Linked DNA regions of Homo sapiens: all the other regions are linked to region 1. The links come from fine-mapping of genetic effects on gene expression. A gene starts in region 1. Each other region holds a variant in brackets. All regions are shown on one strand. Distances are between the middles of the regions. Region 1 holds the start of TRMT61B (tRNA methyltransferase 61B). Region 2 overlaps PPP1CB (protein phosphatase 1 catalytic subunit beta). Region 3 overlaps SPDYA (speedy/RINGO cell cycle regulator family member A). Region 4 has its middle 23 kb from the start of FOSL2.

What was found. PIP is the estimated chance that this variant, and not a neighbour inherited with it, causes the effect. A credible set is the group of variants that fine-mapping cannot tell apart.
Region 2: its variant is the best candidate, but not a certain one, in a credible set for the expression of TRMT61B in prefrontal cortex (GTEx, PIP 0.88).
Region 3: its variant is the best candidate, but not a certain one, in a credible set for the expression of TRMT61B in subcutaneous fat (GTEx, PIP 0.69).
Region 4: its variant is the best candidate, but not a certain one, in a credible set for the expression of TRMT61B in pancreas (GTEx, PIP 0.61).

The regions. Positions count from the first base shown.
Region 1 is chr2:28,867,839-28,872,989 of GRCh38, reverse strand. TRMT61B (tRNA methyltransferase 61B) reads left to right here and starts at 2,681. Exons shown (of 7, transcript NM_017910.4): 1 at 2,681-3,411. The coding sequence starts at 2,713. RefSeq lists enhancers at 2,339-2,488, 2,719-2,888, 2,503-3,027, 3,657-4,171, 4,172-4,687.
Region 2 is chr2:28,767,665-28,772,815 of GRCh38, reverse strand. The region is part of intron 1 of PPP1CB (protein phosphatase 1 catalytic subunit beta); the gene reads right to left. Among named protein-coding and RNA genes, the nearest start is that of PPP1CB, 18 kb to the right of the region's middle. The variant TG/G (reference allele first, on the strand shown) is at 2,029.
Region 3 is chr2:28,832,502-28,837,652 of GRCh38, reverse strand. All of the region lies in intron 6 of SPDYA (speedy/RINGO cell cycle regulator family member A), which reads right to left. Among named protein-coding and RNA genes, the nearest start is that of SPDYA, 24 kb to the right of the region's middle. The variant C/T (reference allele first, on the strand shown) is at 3,079.
Region 4 is chr2:28,366,991-28,372,141 of GRCh38, reverse strand. No RefSeq gene overlaps it. Among named protein-coding and RNA genes, the nearest start is that of FOSL2, 23 kb to the left of the region's middle. The variant C/G (reference allele first, on the strand shown) is at 2,804.

The DNA of each region.
Region 1 (5,151 bases):
TTTTTCCAATTCCTGCTTATTCTGAAATAACAGCCAAGTATCATTTGATAATACTCAAGAAATAATAAAGTAGGTATGATAACTTTTAAAACCACCATAGGGCTTAGAGTTCAGGAGGTTCCGGCTCAGACCCATGTTTGGCAATGATAATCTCCTTAATTTCAAGAATTTTATAACCAAAAATGAGTTTTTGTCTTAGAAAGCCTATCACAAGAAAAAGTAGTGAGAAAAGCCTACGACTCCAGAAACTATTGGTCATAACTTTTCCTAAAAAGCAAACTACACAAAGTGAGACACGCAGTTGGGGTGTGGAGAGAGCAGTTTCTTTATTCATTTTTAGAATTAGAAGGGAGAAATTTGGCTGGGTGCAGTGGCTCATGGCTGTAATTCCAGCTCTTTGGGAGACTGAGGTGGGTGGATCACCTGAGGTCAAGAGTTCAAACCAGCGTGGCCAACATGGCGAAACCCCGTCTCTACTAAAAATACAAAAATTAGCTGGGTATGGTGGTGCACACCTGTAATCCCAGCTATCTGGGAGGCTGAGGCAGGAGAATTGCTTGAACCTGGGAGGCAGACATTGCAGTGAGCCGAGATCATACAACTGCACTCCAGCCTGGGCGAGAGTGAGACTCTGTCTCACAAAGAAAAAAAAAGGAAAAAAAGAAGGGAGAAATCCTGTTGATGGAGTTTATGGTGGCTGATGTCCTAGAAAGTACTGATTAGAAAGTATTAATTTATGTCTTAGAAAGTAATAACGGCCAGGCGCGGTGGCTCATGCCTGTAATCCCAGCACTTTGGGAGGCCGAGGCGGGTGGATCATGAGGTCAGGAGTTCGAGACCAGCCTGGCCAACATGGTGAAACCGAGTCTCTACTAAAAATACAAAAATTAGCCTGGCATGGTGGCAGGTGCCTGTAACCCCAGCTACTCGGGAGGCTGAGGCAGGAGAATCGCTTGAACCCAGGAGGCAGAGGTTGCAGTGAGCCAAGATCGTGTCATTGCACTCCAGCCTGGGCAACAAGAGCAAGACTCTGTCTCAAATAAAAAAAAAAAAAAAGAATAACAAGATTTATTTCATCAAATTTAAACAGAATTCACATTGACTTCACAGCCCTTTGAATATACTTGGACTTTAAGTTCAACTGTGCTGTTGACCAGTCTTTCCAAACGGTGTTACAGTACAAAGAGCATGGGCTGCTGAACCAGACTGACTAAATAGGAAACTCTGCAATGCCACTTGTCAGCTATGCATCTTGACCAACTTATTATTATTATGTTGCACGTGGGTCTTGAAATCCTGGGCTCAAGCAATCCTCTGGCCTGGGTCTCCCAAAGTGTTGGGGTTACAGGTGTGAGCCACCACTCCTGGTTTCCCCAAATTATTTAATCTCCCTGGGCCAGTTCTTTTACTCATAAAATGGATTTGTTTCTAACACAGAATTGTTGGAAACTTAAATGAGTGTCTAACGTGCCTCGTATTGCCAGACTCTCAATAAACTTTTGCCCAGTCAACTAATATCCAGCAAAGAGGCTAGCGATTTTTCTTTTTTTTTTGAGACAGAGTTTTGCTGTGTCGCGCAGGCTGGAGTGCAGTGGTAGCTCGATCTTGGCCCGCTGCAACCTCCGCCTCCTGGGTTCAAGCTATTCTCATGCCTCAGCCTCCCTTGTAGCTGGTATTACAGGCGTGCACCATCGCGCCCGACTAATTTTTTTCCCCCGAGAGGAGTTTTGCTCAGTCGCCCAGGCTGGAGTGCAGTGCCGAGATCTCAGCTCACTGCAACGTCTGCCTCCCGGGTTCAAGCGCTTCTCCTGCCTCAGCCTCCCGAGTAGCTGGGATTACAGGTGCGTGCCTCCACGCCCAGCTAATTTTTGTATTTTTAGTAGAGACGGGGTTTCACCACATTTGCCAGGCTGGTCCCGAACTCCTGACCTCAAATGAGCCGCTTGCCTCGGTCGGCTTCCCAAAATGCTGGGAGGCTAGTGATATTTAACGCTAAATAACTCTGGCCTCCAAAGATACCTGTTTCCATTTTAAGACACTTCTATTTCGTTTTGGGAGGGTAAACTAGTTATATTTTAATAATGAAAACATGTGTTACATAAGCACATAGTGAGTACTCGAATCAACCTCGGACTCTCCGGGCGTGAGGGGTGGGTGAGGGGACCGGCAGGTGGTCACAGCCCCATCAAAAGGGAGTTGGGGCTGGGGGATGTCGCGGTCAACTGGGAAAGGAGAGCCAATCAGCAAGTGGCGCGTCCCACGCCGTCTGTCAAATGCATCTGGGGGTTAGCTGTACTCATACATCTTGTGGGTGACTAGGTGACTTCCGTGTTCAAGACACAAGCGAGCTAAGCCTGGGATTTCAGTTTGCACAGCGCTTTGTTAAGTTTTGTCTCTCAATCTTGCTGTCCAAGAGCGAACCTGGAGGTCGTCTGTTAGCGGTAAATTCTTTACCCACATTCCGAAAAGGAAAACGGCGGCCGCGCGCGAGGACATATTCCTTGGATGGTCACTCAACCAGGACTCCGCTGCTCCCGCGCCCTAGCTTGACCTAGCGCACCGCCCCCTCCCCGACGCAGGCGCAGTCGCGGAGCTGTAGAGCCCCACGCAGCTGCAGAGCCATCGGGCTGCTGCGCCATGCGCGCGACTGGGAAAGAAGGGGTCGCGCTAGGCTTGCGTCACTCGTCTGCGACGGCGCCTTCGCGAAACACTATGCTAATGGCATGGTGCCGCGGTCCTGTCTTGCTGTGCCTGCGGCAGGGGCTCGGAACCAATTCATTCCTGCACGGCCTGGGGCAGGAGCCCTTCGAGGGAGCTCGGTCACTGTGTTGCAGGTCCTCGCCTAGAGACCTGCGAGATGGAGAAAGAGAGCACGAGGCGGCACAAAGGAAAGCCCCAGGAGCAGAGTCTTGCCCATCTCTCCCTCTGAGCATCTCGGACATTGGGACTGGATGTCTTTCGTCACTGGAAAACCTCAGACTGCCGACGCTGCGGGAAGAGTCATCCCCTCGAGAGCTCGAGGACTCGAGCGGAGACCAGGGCCGGTGCGGTCCCACACACCAGGGATCCGAGGATCCTTCGATGCTCTCGCAGGCCCAGTCCGCTACCGAGGTCGAAGAGCGTCACGTCTCCCCTTCTTGTTCAACTTCCAGAGAGAGACCCTTTCAGGCTGGGGAACTGATTTTAGCTGAGACTGGGGAGGGAGAAACAAAATTTAAGAAATTATTTAGGTTGAACAACTTCGGACTCTTAAATAGTAACTGGGGGGCAGTCCCGTTCGGCAAGATCGTGGGGAAGTTCCCCGGCCAGATACTGAGGAGTTCCTTCGGTAAGCAGTACATGCTGAGGAGGCCAGCCTTGGAAGACTATGTAGTATTGATGAAAAGAGGGACTGCCATAACATTCCCAAAGGTAATGCGATGGAGATAAGGTGTGTATTGGTTTCAGGAGGGGCAAAGACAGATGCAGTACTCAGTCCTGATTAATGTATTCAAAGACATCTCAGAACGTTTGGATTTTTTATTGTACTCAGGCTTTTAAAATAAACCAATGGTTATAACTTTTACATATCATGATGAAAATTAGCATTAGGGAACGGCTAGATTTTAATTTTAACTTAGGAGTCTCGAGTCCCTTATTTGTAAAATGTGGATAATAGCTCAACTTTCTGTTAGGGTGATGTGAACTCACTACGTACATAATAAGTACTAATTTTGTTCCCCATTACTCTTAAGTTTATAACTTCAGGACTCAAGAGAATGTTGAACTCTTAGGGAACAATTTTTTAGTACTACTATGATGATATTTTAATATTCAATAATCATGTTACAAGAGTATATTAACAATAGGTACATTACGGTGCTTTTCCCCTTTTAGGGAAGAAATAGAGTTTTATATTACAATAGCTAACATTCAACACCAAACATAAAATGACTATTCTTTATTAAAAAGTTAACTGCCTAAAGCCTAGTTTCAGTCTTTTTTTTAAGACAAGTTCTCACTCTGTCATCCAGGCTGGAGTGCAGTGTTGCGATCTTGGCTCCCTGCAACCTCTGCCTCCCGGGTTCAAGCGATTCTCCCACCACAGCCTCCTGAGTACCTGGGACTACAGGCATGCACCACCACCCCGGGCTAATTTTTGTAGAGACGGGGTTTCGCCTTATTGCCCAGGCTGGTCTTCAACTCGTGGCCTCAAGTGATCCGCCCACCTCGGCCTCCCAGTGCTGGGATTACAGGCGGGAGCCACCGCGCCCAGCCCTAGTTTGAAGCTTATGCTAATCATCTATTGCTAGCAGATTATTTCAATCCTTAGTCACAGTCCTTGAGTAGAATGTTCCTGTGTAACACAACTCCTCCTCCTTTCTCCAGATCAGGATTCATTCGTTATTTATTCAGCAAATTGACTGCCTTCCATACTCAAGGCACTGTTTAGGGAAGTATAGTGTTGAACTGCAGTCCTCACCCTCAACATAGACCTTACATTCTAGAAGGGGTGACAAAGAACAAACAAGTAAATGAAAGAATAAGGTCATTTCCAGTAGTGTTAAGTGTCATGAAGACAAATATATTAACAATGACATTGTTTTGGGTGACCTGGGGTATGAGCATACTTTATGTCAGGTGAGGAGAGATGGTCTCCAAGGAGGTACACTTGATAGGAAACCTAAATAAGGAAGAGCTTGCCTTGTAAACAGATCTAGGAAGAGAATTGTTCTTGCAAAGGGAGGAATGCTGCAGAGTTTCTGTTGTGGCCTCAATGGGTCAGATGAGGGACCCCGTATGAGGTGTGGTTTGAGTATTTTATTCCATTTGTAGTGAAGGACCATTAGAAGGTTCTTAGTAGGAATCCAGTCTGTATTTTAAACGGTCTACCCAGGGACTAAAAAAACTTTCCTCAGAAACTTAGGCTACTGAGGTATAATAAGCTTTTTTTGTTTAAAGACAAGGTCTTGCTATGTCACCCAGGCTAGAGTGCAGTGGCTCAATCACCTCTTACTGTAGCCTGAACCTCCCAGGCTCCAACAATCCTCGCACCTCAACCTCCTGAGTAGCTGGGACCACAGGTGCATGCCACTATGCCTAGCTAATCAAAAATTTTTTTTGTAGAGTTGGGGTCGCCCTAACTTGCCCAGACTGGTCTCAAACTTCTCT
Region 2 (5,151 bases), 100 kb after region 1:
TCAAAGAAAATGCTCATTGGAGCATTTCAGATTTCAGATTATCAGATTACGGATGCTTAACTGGTAAGTATAATACAAATACTCAAAAATCTGAAAAAAATCCAAATTCCAAACACTTGGGGTCCCAAGCATTTTGGATAAAAAATATTCAACCTGTATTCCATTCTATGAACATATGACAATATCTTTACTACTCTATTTGGATTATTTCCAGTTTGGGGCTATTACAAATGCTATGAATATCCATGGGCATATTTATCTTAGGTATGTATAGAACAAAGCAGTAGAACTGCTCGGGTCAGTTTATTTCATTAAGTAGTAGATACCATCAGTTTCCCAAAGTGGCTATACCAATTCATAATCCTCCTAACACTGTTGGTCCATATCTTTACTGATACTGCAAATTATCAGTATTTTTAATTTTAGTCATTTTGTTGGGTATATGGTGGTATTCGTTGGATTTAATTTGATTTCCCCGAGGACCAAGGTTGTCAAGTACCCTTTTTTTTCTTTTTGAGATGGAGTCTCGCTCCGTCACCCAGGCTGGAGTGTAGTGGCAAGATCATGGCTCACTGCAACCTCCACCTCCCGGGTTCAAGGATTCTCCTGCCTCCTGAGCAGCTGGGATTACAGGTGCACACCACCATGCCCAGCTAATTTTTGTAGAGACAGGGTTTCACCATGTTGCTCAGGCTCATCTCGAACTCCTAACCTCAAATAATCTCCCCGCCTTGGCCTCCCAAAGTGCTGGGATTACAGGCGTGAGCCACTGCACCTGGCCATTGAGTATCTTTTTCATGTGCCTAATAGACCCTTTAGGTTATCTTTTTTTTTTTTTTTGGACAAGTTCGTTTTAAGTCTTTTGTTCATTCTTTAAAACTGGACTTTTTCCATCTCTTCATGCTATCTTTTGATGAACAGAAGTTCTTTAATGAATTTAAATCTTAAAAAATCTTAGTCAATCTTTTTTTGGTTAAGGCCTTTTGCATCTTATTCAAGAAATTCTTGCCTTCTCTAAACATATTTCCTTATGTTTCCTTCCAGATATTTTATTGTTTTAGCCCACTTCATTCTATAACCCATCTCAAATTAATTTTGTGTATGGTTTGATGTAAAGGTCAAGGTTTTTATCTAAGCAGATACCCAGTTGATTCAGCACCATTTATCATAAAGATCATCCTTTTCCCCACTGAACCGCAATGGCAGCTTTGTAGAAAAATCAGGTGACCATACAGGAACAGGTCTGTTTTTAGCCACTATATAGCTCATTACCCCATTTGTCTATTTTTGCATCAATACCACAATGTCTTAATTACTATGGCTTTTTATAAAGTCTCGGTATCTAGTAATATAAACATCCCAATTTTGTTCTTTAGATTTTCCTTTTGAACTTTCAAATGTTTTAAAATTGGCTTGTGTCTAGCCCCTCCACCCCCAAACTTGTGAGGTGTTAAATTGGGAATAAGGCCGAGTACAGTGGCTCATGCCTGTAATCCCAGCACTTTGGGAGGCCGAGGTGGGTGGATCACCTGAGGTCAGGAAGAGACCAGCCTGGCCAACATGGTGAAACTCCGCCTCTACTAAAAATACAAAAATTAGCCAGGCGTGATGGCAGGTGCCTGTAATCCCAGCTACCCAGGAGGCTGAGGCAGGAGAATCGCTTGAACCCAAGAGACAGAGGTGGCAGTGAGCCACGATCGTGCCACTGCACTGCAGCCTGGGCAACAAGAGTGAAACTCTGCCTCAAAAAAAAAAAAAAAGGGTGGGGGGGGGGGAGCAGGGAATAAGTAGGTAAGTCTAGACAGAATTGGTATCTTCACAATTTCAAGTCTTCCAATCCACAAATATGGTATCTCTCCTTTTATTTATTTCTCTCAGCAATGTTATATACTCTAGTATGGCAGTCTTTCACGTTTTTCATTAAATGGATTTTGGCTGACATCTGTGATGTCATTTCTTTCAAATGTACTGAGGGGTGCTTTATGGTATAGCATATGGTATATTTTAGTAAATGTTTCATACATATTT[TG/G]AAAAGCATATATATCCTGAAATTATTGAGTGAAGTGTTCTATGTCCGCCAAGTAGGTCAGGGTGGCTGTGTTGTTCAAATCTTTATCCTCGCTGATTTTTTCCTGTTTGTTCTACTAGTTACTGAAAGAGGGGCACTGATCTATGGTTGTGGTTTTGTCTATTTTAACTTTTTATAATAGTTGTCAACCTTTCCTTTTAGTTTTAGACCTATACTATTACATATATAAAAATTTTAGATATTTTTCCATTAAATTTATCCTTTTAGCATTATATAATGCCCTTCTTTACCTCTAGTGTTATTTCTGGTTTTAGAGCTTTTTCCAACATAAATATAGCCAAGTCAGCTTTCATTTGATTAATGTGTGCATGATATCGTCTCCCCCACACCCCCCTCCCCCCCCCCTTTTTTTTACTTCCTCATTTGTGTCCTTAGATTTAAAATACATCCCTTGTAAACAGTATCTATAATAGTTAGGTCTTCTGAGCTTTGCATTAATTTCAATGTTTGCTCCTTTTCTTTTTGAGATGGAGTCTCACTCTGTCACCCAGGCTGGAGTGCAGCGGCATGATCTCAGCTCACTGAAACCTTTGCCTCCCAGATTCAAGCGATTCTCCTGCCTCAGCCTCCTGAGTAGCTGGGATTACAGGCACCCACGCCCAGCCAATTTTTGTATTTTTAGTAGAGATAGGGTTTCACCATGTTGGCCAGGCTGGTCTTGAACTCCTGACCTCAAGTGACCTGTCCGCCTTGGCCTCCCAAAGTGCTGGGATTACAGGTGTGAGCCACGGTGCCCAGCCAATATTTGCTCCTTTTACATTTAATATAATCATCGACGAAGTTGAGTTTAAGTCTACCATTCTGTCATCTGTTCTGTTTGTCCCATCTGTTCTTCATTCCTCTCTCTTTCCCTGCATTTCTTTGGAGTAATCAGTTATTTTTTTACTATTCCATTTTCTCCTCTATTAGCTTTTCGTTATATATTCTTTTTTCATTTAGAGGTTGCTCTAGAGATTACAAATACACTTTTGACTGATTACCACCCGCCTCCAGCCTTTTGTTCTACAGTTGTCGTATTTTTGTTTCCACATATTTTAAATCCCACAAGCCACAACTATTATTTTAAACAGTCAGAATTTGTATTTACTCACATTTATCCTTACCATTGTTCATTTCTTTCTGCAGTTCTTTGCTTTTATCTGTTATTTTCTTGCAACACAAAGAACTTGCTTTAATATTCTCTAGTGTCAGCATATCAGCAATATATTTTCTGAGCTTTAGTTTGTCTTCATTTTACTTTACTATTGAAGGATATTCTAGATTTAGAATTCTAGACCAGCCTGACCAAGATGGAGAAACCCTGCCTCTACTAAAAATACAAAATTAGCCAGGCGTGGTGGCACATGCCTGTAATCCCAGCTACTCGGGAGGCTGAAGCAGGAGAATCGCTTGAACCCGGGAGGCAGAGGTTGCAGTTAGCCAAGATCACGCCATTGCACTCCAAGCCTCGGCCACACGAGCAAAACTCCATCTCAAAATAAATAAAGAATTCTAGGTTGTCATTTTTTTTCTTTCAGTGCTTTAAAGAGAACACCATTCTATTGTCTTCTGTCTTCCACAGTTTCAGGTGATAGATCAGCCATCATTCATATTATTGTTCCCTGAAGATAATGAATTTTTTCTTCTGACAGCATTTAACATTTTCTCTTTCTCTTGGATTTCTAGCAGCTATGTTCAATATGGTTTTCTCTCTATTTACCCTGCTTGGAATCACACAGCTTCTTTAATATGTGCTTGGATATCTCTGTTTTGGAAAATTATTAGTCAATATTTCCATCCCATTGTATGTCTATCTCCTCTCTTTCTGGGATTCCTATTATACATGATAGACCTTTCCACTGTCTATCAGCAATACATAAGTCTCTCATGCTTTCTTCTGTACACTTTTTTTTTTCTGTCAGCACTAGATAATTTCTATTGGTTTTTGGTCAATTCAGTTTCATTAGCTTGTCCAAAACAGCATATCCTATTTTGGTGAATGAAATACTGAATTATGGATACAAAATTGTAGAAGTTTTAGATAATACCTTTCTCCAAAGAAGGCTGTTTCCTTTTAGCAGCAGCACAGCAGTAACTCATTTTCCTGAGGGCTGGTCTGTTTTAGTTTTGCCTTCAATCTTAGGCAGTGGTCATGATGGGGCCACAGTGGAAAACTCAGGGTGTAATAAGGCCCCTCTAACTTGGCAGGATTTGAACTTCCATTTTTGCCTCTCTGGCATTAGATACTGAAATGTCTGCTCAGATCTTTAGCTTTTCAGCTACTGTTTTCTGCTGGGTTTCTTCTCTTGCTTATGTGTACCTCTGAAGTCAGTCAATGACTTTAGAGGGACCTGACTGCAGATTTTGAGGTTAGATTTTATGTGGTTCTCTCCTCTCCTGGACTTAAGCTTCAATTGCTTTAGTGGCCCCAAACTTCCACCTTTCTTCCTTAGCCCAGTGAGACCGTCACTTTTTATTTGGGATCTATTTCCCCTATGCCACAAACTAGGAAATGTCTCCAGGGAAAAAAGCCAGGGTGACTGGTGAGCTCACACTATACGCTTCCCTTGTCAAAGATCAAAACCCCTCAACAATTTTCTGTGTTGGCTGCCTCTTCAACAATGGAATGGCTGCCGAGAGGCACACAAAATGTGATTATGCATACACTAGAAATTCAGGTGATTACATTAAAAAAATTGAGGAATGACTTGTCAAGGACTAGACACCATGGCTCCTAATCCCAATTTATTTCACCTGACTTAATCAGTCACACAACTTTGGTGGGAGCACCAAGGTTTCCTGACTTCCAGTAAGGTTATCTTTCTACAATCATGTTTACATTAGGAAAGGCAGAAAAACTACACCAGTATTCAGCAAACTAAGGCCAAGGGGTCAAATCTAGCCCAATGCCAGTGTTTGCATGGCTAGGGGCCTAAGAATAATTTTTTACATTTTTTAAATGATTGCAAAAAAGCAAAACAAAAGAATCCTCTGTGACATATAAAAATTATATGAAACTCAAATTTTGGTGGCCATAAAGTTTAATGAAGCATAGCCACTTATTTATCACTGGACACATTCAT
Region 3 (5,151 bases), 35 kb after region 1:
TGTTCCTTAGTTTCTTATCTGGGATTACCTAGCTAGATCTAAGAATTGTGAGAGTTAATAATACATGGGCAATACTTAGAACAGTGCCTGGAAAGTTCTTAAAAAGTATTAATATTACTTTGACCTTGAATCTCTTAAATACTCGAAGCATCATTTATACGTAATGACTTTTACCATACCTGTTGACCATTCATTTAATTATATCCAGTTACTGCCTTACATTCATGTCTATATACCAAATTCCTTATCTTCCCAAAGAATCCAGTTTGCTTCTGTAGGCTTCCCTATTTCCATTATGGAACCCATTACTCTTCCTGTTATATATATTTGAAACTTACAGTTCCCTCTCCCATGTACCCTATATCCAACTGGTTACCAGGTAATGATAATTATAATTTTTTAACATTTCTAACATCTGTTTCATTTTCTTCAGCACTGCTATCAATTTTCTTCACAACCTTGTTTCCAGCTATAGCAAGTTTAGCAGTTTCCAATACATTCCCTATATTGGATCTCTTTTGCATACTGTCATTGGATTATTCTGTCAAAACACACTACTTATCTCATTGCTTTCTAAATTCCTAATCTGGAATCAAGTAATAGATAGTGAAGAACTCAGCTATGATGATATTGTGGCATCTTGGCCAGAGTATTAACGGGAATAGAGAAAAACTTCTTGATTAAATTGCTACCCTCCATGATGCATGAAAGGGGCTGGAAGTGTAGTCTAACTCTCTCATTAGATAGGCATCCTCCCTAATGTGTGAACCAGTTTAGAAATTAAGCCATCACCAATGTAAATAAATCCCACCTTAAAGGAGTTGTTGATAAGATCATCAGGTAAGAAGATAAAATCAGAATAAACAAAGAAATAGTCCACTCTTTTCTGGAGAAGCCCTATATATATTTTCCAATTTAATCACAACCCATCTCTTTCCAAAAAGGAATGAGGCAGCTGAGAAAAAAGGGGAAAAAATTTCATTGAGCTTAGACCCAAAAGGGAAATTTCGACTAAAAGGGGAAAGCAGACATGCCAGTAATAAAATGTAATAGAGTTGATGTGGTCAAGGATAATACCTGGCTTTTAGCTTCTTTGCAGCCAAGATTAAAAAAAGAAAAGAGACAATTACAAAACTCACTATTTGAAAAGACAGCACATGTTCTTTCTTATGTCAGTGGTGTATAATTCAAAGAGCACTAAGTTATTAGTATCTGCTACTTATTAACTTCATGGCCATGGACAAATCACAATCTTACTAAGCCACAGTTTTTGCATCTGTGAAATGGAGGGAATACTGCGGCTATTTAATTCCCAAGACAAGAAATAAATGCATTTTCTAAACTAACCAATATGAGAGGTTTATATGGAGGCTAGATGTCACAGAAAAAAGAGAACACTAGGAAGTCATTAGATGTTCTGGCTCTGCAACTTCTATGATTTTGAGTAAATCCCAGCCTCCTCGGTCCTCAGTTTCATTAGCTGTGAAATGAGGATGCCACCACCCCCACAGCTATTTGTGTGATAATTTCTGTAAAAGTCATAATTTGTAAAGCACTGTGCAAATGTAAAGTATTATTATTATAAGCTAGTTTGTAGCTACTATCTTAACTTGAGGTTATTTTAGGATATGGGACTAAAGAAATGTTTCGTTTGGCAGTATGCCAGGCTTTCAGTAACAAATGTATAGAACAGTTACATTTTCAACAGTATGTCTTGCTATTTCAGGAATGGGAATGGGGTGATATAATACTTCTTTACAATAAACTCCCAGGGCACTGAACTTGGTGTGTTATTCATAAAGTAGTTGTCCAGTGAACACTTAACAGAACAGGATAAAATCTACTAGGCAGTTACCTTTTCTATACGCCTACAGGATTCAAATGTACCTTGTTGGAACAGCCAAAAAACAGCTTCTCTATCTGCCACTGGAGTAAGCGGCAGTGCAAAGTGAGCTCAGTGAATAATTATTTTATAGTTTATTGTTTCCCTATTTAATGGATAAGAAGGTATGAAAAAGAATTGGAAGTTCCATTCATTTGATCAGTCAACAAATATTTATTGACTACCCACTATGTGCCAGGCACTGTTCTAGGCTCTGGAGATAGAATAAGAACAAAATAAGGCTGGGCGCTCATGCCTGTAATCCCAGCACTCTGGGAGGCTGAGGCAGGTGGATCACTTGAGATCAGGAGTTTGAGACCAGCCTGGCCACCATGGTGAAAACCCTGTCTCTACTAAAAATACAAAATAGCCGGGCGTGGTGGCGCATGCCTGTAATCCCAGCTGTAATCCTAGCTACTTGGGAAGCCGAGGCAGGAGAATCGCTTGAACCCAGGAGGTGGAGGTTGCAGTGAGCCAAGATCACGCCATTGCACTCCAGCCTGGGTGACAGAATGAAACTCTGTCTTAAAAAAAAAAAAAAAAAGGTCAGGCACTATGGCTCACATCTGTAATCCCAGAACTTTGGGAGGCCAAGGTGGGAGGATTGCTTGAGCCCAGGAGTTCAAGGTTGCAGTGAGCTACGATTGCACACTGCAGCTGGCAGCCTGGGTAACAGAATGAGACCCTGTCTCAAAAACAAAAACAAAACAAAACAAACAAATGCAAAATAAAGACCCTGCTCTCTTGGAATCTGTATTTTAGTGGGAGGAAATTTATTAACAAGATAAATAAGTAAAAAGCAGTCTGTTACATGATGGTTGAGTGCTATGAGGAAAATTGGAACTGAGAAAGGGAATACAGAGTAATAGTGGGAGGAACTACTTTTAATTTTAACAGCTTTGAAATGTAATTAAAATACCTTAGAATCACCCAATTGAAATGTACAATTCAATGATATTCAATATATTCAGAGTTAAGCAACCATAACCACGGTCAATTTTGAAGCATTTTCATCACTCTATATATAAAGCAATCACACTCCATTTTCTCCCTTCTCTCAGCCCATAACAACTACTAATCTACTTTCTGTCTTTGAATTTGTCCATTCTGGACCTTTCATATAAATGGAATCATACAATATGTCGTCCTTTGTGACAGGCTTCTTTTATGTAGCATAATCTTTTCAAGGTTATCTG[C/T]GTTGTAGCTTGAACCAGGTACTTCATTCCTTTTAATTGCCAAGTAATATTTTATTGTAGGGATATACCTTATTTTGTTTATCCATTCTATCAGCTGATGGACATTCAGGTTGTTTGTACTTTGGCTATTATGAATACTGCTATGAACATTCATGTTAAAGTTTTTTGTGTGGACATAGTTTTGTTTTTACCCTTTGGCATATATAGCCAGGACTAGACTTGCTGGATCATATGGTAACTCTATGTTAACCTTGTGAGGAATTGCCAGACTGTTATGCAAAGCAACTTCCCCATTTTACATTTCCATAAGAAGTGTATGAGGGTTCCAGTATCTCCACATCCTCTTCAATACTTTTATTTTTGTTTTGTTTATAGCCATCATAGTGGGTGTGAAGTAATATCTCATCGTGCTTTTGATTTGCAATCCCTGACAGCTAATGATGTTGAACATCTTTTCAAGTGTGTGTGTGTGTGTGTGTGTGTGTGTGTGTGTTTTAGCAATTTGCATACCTTCTTTGGAGAAATGTCTATTTGGATTATTTGCCCATTTTTTAAATTGATTGTCTTTTTATTATTAAGTTGTAAAGCTCTTTATATTTCTAGATACAAGACCCTTATCAAATAGATGACTTGCAAAAAATTTTTTTCATTTTATAGGTCATCTCTTCACTTGGTATCCTTTGAAGGACAAAAGGTTTTAATTTTGATGATGTCTATTTTATATTTTCTTTTGTTACATGTTACTTTTGGTATCATGTCTAAGAAACCTAATTCAAGGTCACGAAGACTTACCCCTATGTTTTCTTCTAAGAGTTTTATGGTTTTAGGTTTTACATTTAGGTCTTTGATCCATTTTGAGTTAATTTTTATATATGGTATAAACCAGAGGTTCGGCTTCATTCTTTTGCTTGTAGATATCCAGTTGTCATAGCACCATTTGTTGAAAAGACTACATTTTCCCCATTGAATTTTCTTGGCACCCTTGTCAAAATTCAATTGAACATAATTGTGACGGTATATTTCTGGACACTTCTATTCCATGGAGGGAGATACTACTCTATATAAGGTGATAAGGAAAGGTCTCTCTGAGGTGACATTTAAGCAGAATCCTGAACGTAGTTAGGAAGTGAAGCATACTGATATTTGGGGAACAACATTCCAGGTTATGGGAATAGTAAGTGCAAAGACCATGAGATGGGAGTGTAACTGGTATCTTTGAGGTAAGGAGGCCGGTGTAGCTTGAGTGGAAGAGCAAAGATATGAGATGAAATCAAAGAGATAAGGGAGGAGGGCTGATAGACCATGTAGGACCATGACAGGGACTTTCTCTTTTACCCTATGTAAGGCTGGAAGACACTGGAGGCTTTTGAGTAGAGAAGTCATGATTTGACTTACCTAAAAAAAAAATTACTCTGGCAGCTGTATGAAGAATAGATTATAGCTGCATATGGTGGCTCACACCTGCAATCCCAGCACTTTGGGAGGCCAAGGTGGGAGGATTGCTTAGGCACAGGATTTTGAGACCGGCCTGGGCAACATAGCGAGACCCCATCTCTACAAAAAATAAATTAGCTGGGCATGGTGGCACATGCCTGTAGTCCCAGCTACTTGGGAGGCTAAGGCAGGAGATCGCTTGAGTCTAGGAGGTTAAGGCTGCAATGAGCCATGATCTCACCACTGCACTACTGCCTGGGTAACAGAGTAAGACCCTGTCTTTAAAAAAAAAAAAAAGGTGGGGGTGGGAGAGACTATTTGGAAACTTATGCCAGTAATCAAGGCAAGAGGTGACAATAAAAGTATAGTATTAGTGGTGGAGGTGGTGAGAAATGGTAGGATGCTGGATATTTTTTCAAGGTACAAATATAAGAAAAAGAAGGGTAAATGGAAATAATTTTTTGGCCTGAGCAACTAAAACAATAGAGTTGCTACTTATGAATATGTGGAAGACTGCAGGAGGAGCAAATCTGGAGGTCTGTGTCAAGGAGTCAGGAGTTCAATTTTAGGCACGTTAAGTTTGAGGTATCAATTAGACAAAAAATACCAACAGGCGATTTCGTATGCAGATCTGGAATT
Region 4 (5,151 bases), 500 kb after region 1:
CCACCACAGGCCCCGGTGTGTGATGGTCCCCACCCTGTGTCCAAGTGTTCTCATTGTTTAATTCCCACCTATGAGTGAGAACATGCGGTGTTTGGTTTTCTGTCCTTGTGACAGTTTGCTCAGAATGATGATTTCTAGCTTCATCCATGTCCCTACAAAGGACATGAACTCATCCTTTTTTATGGCTGCATAGTATTCCATGGTGTATATGTGCCACATTTTCTTAACCCAGTCTATCACTGATGGACATTTGGGTTAGTTCCAAGTCTTTGCTATTGTGAATAGTGCCGCTGTAAACATACGAGTGCATGGGTCTTTATAGCAGCATGATTTATAATCCTTTGGGTATATGCCCAGTAATGGGATGGCTGGGTCAAATGGAATTGCTAGTTCTAGATCCCTGAGGAATCGCCACACTGTCTTCCACAATAGTTGAACTAGTTTACAGTCCCACCAACAGTGTAAAAGTGTTCCTATTTCTCCACATCCTCTCCAGCACCTGTTGTTTCCTGACTTTTTAATGATCACCATTCTAACTGGTGTGAGATGGTATCTCATTGTGGTTTTGATTTGCATTTCTCTGATGGCCAGTGATGGTGAGCATTTTTTCATGTGTTTTTTGGCTGCATAAATGTCTTCTTTTGAGAAGTGTCTGTTCATATCCTTCGCCCACTTTTTGATGGGGTTGTTTGATTTTTTCTTATAAATTTGTTTAAGGAGAATGGCATTTAAAAATTGAGATCTGGGGCTTTCTAGCTTACTGCTACTGGGGTATCATTGCCTCGTAGTAATTGCCTCTAATCAACAGCATCGGTTGTCAGTTCCAGAATGATGTTAAACAATAGTGGCAAATCCTGGCATCCTCTTCTTGTGCCTGAGTTGAACATCAATATCCCTCGTGTTTCAGCATCACGCATGGTGCTGCCTATTGGTCTGACACAGGTATTTTTTAATCACATCAAAGAAGCATACTTCTATTTCAGTTTTACTAAGAGATTTTTTTTAAAGCAGCTATGTTGGATGTTATATGTTTCTTGGCATCTATCTAGATAGTCAAATTGTTTTTCCTCTTTTGACCTATTAATGGGAATTATAGTACAAAGTTCAACAGTATTAATCATGCTTGCTTTCCCTGAATAAACTCTATTTGAGCAGGATGTATTTTTATAATATAATGTTTGATTCATTGTGCTAATATTTCACTTAGAAATTGTGCGCTTAACAGTCCCAAGTGAAAAGAACCTAGCATTCCCTTTTTTATCATTGTGTTCAGATGCTGGCATTGGAGGTGAGGTGGAAATAGAATACAAGTGAATGTGTAACAGAACTGAGAGACTGGGGGCCATGGAGGGAGGGAAGGAGGAGCAGTGGGGAGAAAGGAGGTGGTAGTCCCTGCAGGCCTAAGGGAGAGTTGGGTGCACAGGAAGGTACAGTCTGAAGGGGGATTTTAAGAATGGAGCCCTTCCAGGTGGGGACAAGGCTCAGATTTTGGCCAGGGAGTGGCTTGCTGAGAGAAAGCTGAAAGTCCACAGGATTGCAGAGGTCAAGAAGCTGTAGGCAAGGGTACTGGATGGGTTGCCTGCCAGGGTGTCGAAATCTTCCCAGGTGGTGGCCCAGAGGCTGGCTGAGTCAGTGCCATGGCGAGTGGGGTCATGACTTGGAGGCCAGTTGGGGGATTACAACTTGGAAAGGAGAAGGGAAAAGCCCCCAAAGTGGGAGGCAGCTTGTTTTTCTTTTTCTTTTTCTTTTTTCTTTTTTTTCTTTTTTTTTTTTGAGACACAGTCCGGTTCTGTTGCCCAGGCTGGAGTGTAGTGGCACAATCTCTGCTCACTGCAACCTTGGCCTCCCAGGTTCAAGCGATTCTCCTGCCTCAGTTTCCCAAGTAGCTGGGATTACAGCCCTGCACCACCATGCCCAACTAATTTTTGTATTTTTAGTAGAGATGGGGTTTTGCCATGTTGGCCAGGCTGGTCTCAAACTCCTGGCCTCAAGTGATCCACTCACCTCAGCCTCCCAAAGTGCTGGGATTACAGGCGTGAGCCACCGTGCCGGCCTATTTTTGTTTGTTTGTTTTTTGTCTTTTGTTTTTTTTTTTTTTGAATGAGGGTGAAATAGCCTGATACAGACCAGTGTGGAGCTGGAGAGAGCCACCCTGTCCTCTCCTCAGCTCAGGTGAGGACGTGAGAGCCAGGGGAGCTGAGAGCCCTGCTCCTGGAGGCCAGGGATTGGGGAAAACAAAGTGGCCAGGCCGCAGAGCTAGGACGGCTGGAACCGCTGCTGAAGGAGGGGCAGCTGTTCTATCCCAACCCCGGGACCAATTCAGTTAAATGAGTTCACAGATGTAAAGCACTTAGTGCCTGGCACTGAGCAAATCTAGTAGCACTGTTATTATTAATTTGTACAAAGTAATTAAATGTTTTTCAAGTAATGCTAAAAGGCAGTTCCAGACACTGCCCATGAAATGTGATTGACACATTCTGCTACAGGCAGGCAAGATGATCTTTCCCCCACTTTCCCCACTCTCGTTCTCATTTACAGTTCCTTCTGGCAGCCTTTCATATCAGCCAGGCCCTGGCTCAAAGCTCAGAGGCCACACTGACAAGTGGCACGGACTCGGGCAAACTTGGGCCTCATCTGTAAAATGGGTAACGATGCCTCCTGGAGTTGGAAAGGGCATCTGTGCTATGGTCCCCTGAGCTATGTTCCAGCCGGCACCCTGAGCCCAGGATCACCAGTGCCACAGAATTGGTTGCTGCTCAGAGGCTGAGCAGATCCCAGGAGCAGAAAAGGGAAGAGAGAGGGG[C/G]AGCCCCAGCTGGGTTCTGGAATCCCACAGCCCAGGCAGAGGAGCAGGAAGGAAAGGAGATAGGGAGAGGGCTTTTCATTCCACAGAGGCGGTAATTCATCATGTCTTAAGATCCAGGAATATAATCCAGACACTGGGAACTCCAAGGCTCAGGAGCAGAGAAAGGCTAAGTTCCTTCACCTGTGGTTAGGTGGGTGGTCTCTGCAGTTCCCCATTTAAACTGGGAACTAAGAAACCAGCCACTACCAAGTGCCTCTATCTGGCCCATTTCTGGCCATGGTCTTAGTCCCAAAGGCCCTTCTAGGGGCCTTGGGTGGTCACTGGCCCTTCCCAGGGTCCCTGGCGGGGTTCCCGCTCCCCCGAGTAGACTGCTCACTCCTCAAGGGATGGAGCCGGCAGGAAAAGCTGGGGTGAACTTGGGGGCTTGTCCTAAAAACGCCTCATCACAGAGCTGGAAGGGACAGAAAGGAGGGCCAGGTTGGAGCTTCTTGCACTTACTGTGAGGCTCTCCCAGGGGGCCTTCATCCTGGTGCGCTGCTGGGCAGGTAATGATGAAGATACGAACATTCATTCACACCTGTCCCAGGTCTCATTTCACAGGTGAGAAAACTGAAGCTTGCAGAGTTAAATGTACCAAACCTAATAGAGGTGGTGAGTGTCAGAGCAGGATTCGAACCCACATCTTCAGAGTCCCGATGCCTGTGCGCTGGCCCCCTCCACGTGCAGTGCACAAGTATTGAGTGAGTGGGGTGAGCCCAGCTCTGGCCAGGTGTTGGGGAGGGGTCAGGCAGGGCCAGAGGGTACATGGTGTAGAACGAAGAGGCTGGATTGCAGGGGACACACTGGACTCTCAGTCTCAGCTCAACTACACCATCAGGGGCCTCAGCGAGTTACTTAACCTCTCTGCCCTCGGGTGCCCATGGTGGAAAATGGGAATAACAGTTCTGGCAGAGAGATGCGGAGAGGAGTAAGTCAGAAAATGTAGGTATAACCCAGATATCAGCGGGGGACTCCCAGCTTCCTGAGGTCTAAGCATGATGAATGTGAACCCCCATGCCAGGGGCGGAGGAACCCAGGGCCCTCCCCAGGATTTCTTCTGGTCCCCTAGAATGGCAGTGCGGTGGGGCTTAGGTTCCGGGGGTCCTCAGCCTCTAGGCCCTGCTTCTGCATTTCTCTCTGTGCCACCCTGTGATAACCCAGGTGCAGCGTCTATCCCTCCCTCTCTTCCCATTCTGGAGCGGAGAGCAGGTGGGGGCCTTCACTGCACCGTGGATAGGGAAACAGCTTCTCCTGGAACACAGCACGTTCAGGTTCTTCACATGCCCTTCAGTCAGTCGCTTCACTGGGGACTTTGGCCTCCCCACTGCACAGTGCCAAAGTCCCAGCCGCCGCCTCTCACAGCCCTGGCCCTGCCACCCCTCTCTCCCCCTCACCCCTGCTCTCCCTGCTGTGTTCTCCAGACTCCTCTCCCTTTGTTCAGGCAGCCCATGGGGCCTCCCATCTCCTCTGCCGACTCCTCTAGACCCCTCTCTGCACATCCAACCCAGCCGGGTGCTCGCAGGGCAAAATGATCTTCATGGAAGCCACCTTCTTAGACAGCAGTCTTGGTTATAAAAAATAAAGGCAGGGGCTGCGCGCGGTGTCCCACGCCTGTAATCCCAGCTACTCGGGAGGCTGAGGCAGGAGAATCGCTTGAATCTGGGAGGCGGAGATTACAGTGAGCCAAGATCGCGCCACTGCACTCCAGCCTGGGCAACAGAGAGAGACTCTGTCTCAATGAAGAAATAAATAAAGGCAAGGAGGACACGCGTGGAGTGAGCTGCCTCCCCATCCCTGCTTTCGATCCTTATGGGCAGCCTGCCCTTAAGAAGTGCACGCGGGCCGTGTGGTAAAACCAATTCTTGTGTTGTGCTCTGCGAAGACCATTTGGGAAAAAAATATTGCTCTGAGGGGCTCGATGCAAACTCAGGGAGAGGAGCGATTTAGGGAAAACAAATAAGCAACTCAGGTTTTGCCCCCACTGACAACTCACTATGTGACCTCCTTACCTCAGGGGCCTGGACTTTCCAGTCACCTGTGATATGGGAAAGGGGGGTGGGATCGAACCAAGCGGCCTCCCAGGGCCCTTCTGGCTGTCACTTCCTGGAGAAGCCCTGGGAGGAATGACAAGCCCCATGTCCCCCTCAGCCAAGTCACTGCCCTACCACTGCGGCTTGTAGCAGCCGGGCAGCCCCTGCCCTCGGAAAGTGTGCGTGAAGCCAGATGCAGGCAGAGAGGCTGGGACCCTCGCTAGGCAGAGGAGCGTGGCCTGAGCTGGGGGCCTGCATTGCACATGAGGAAGGCCTGGG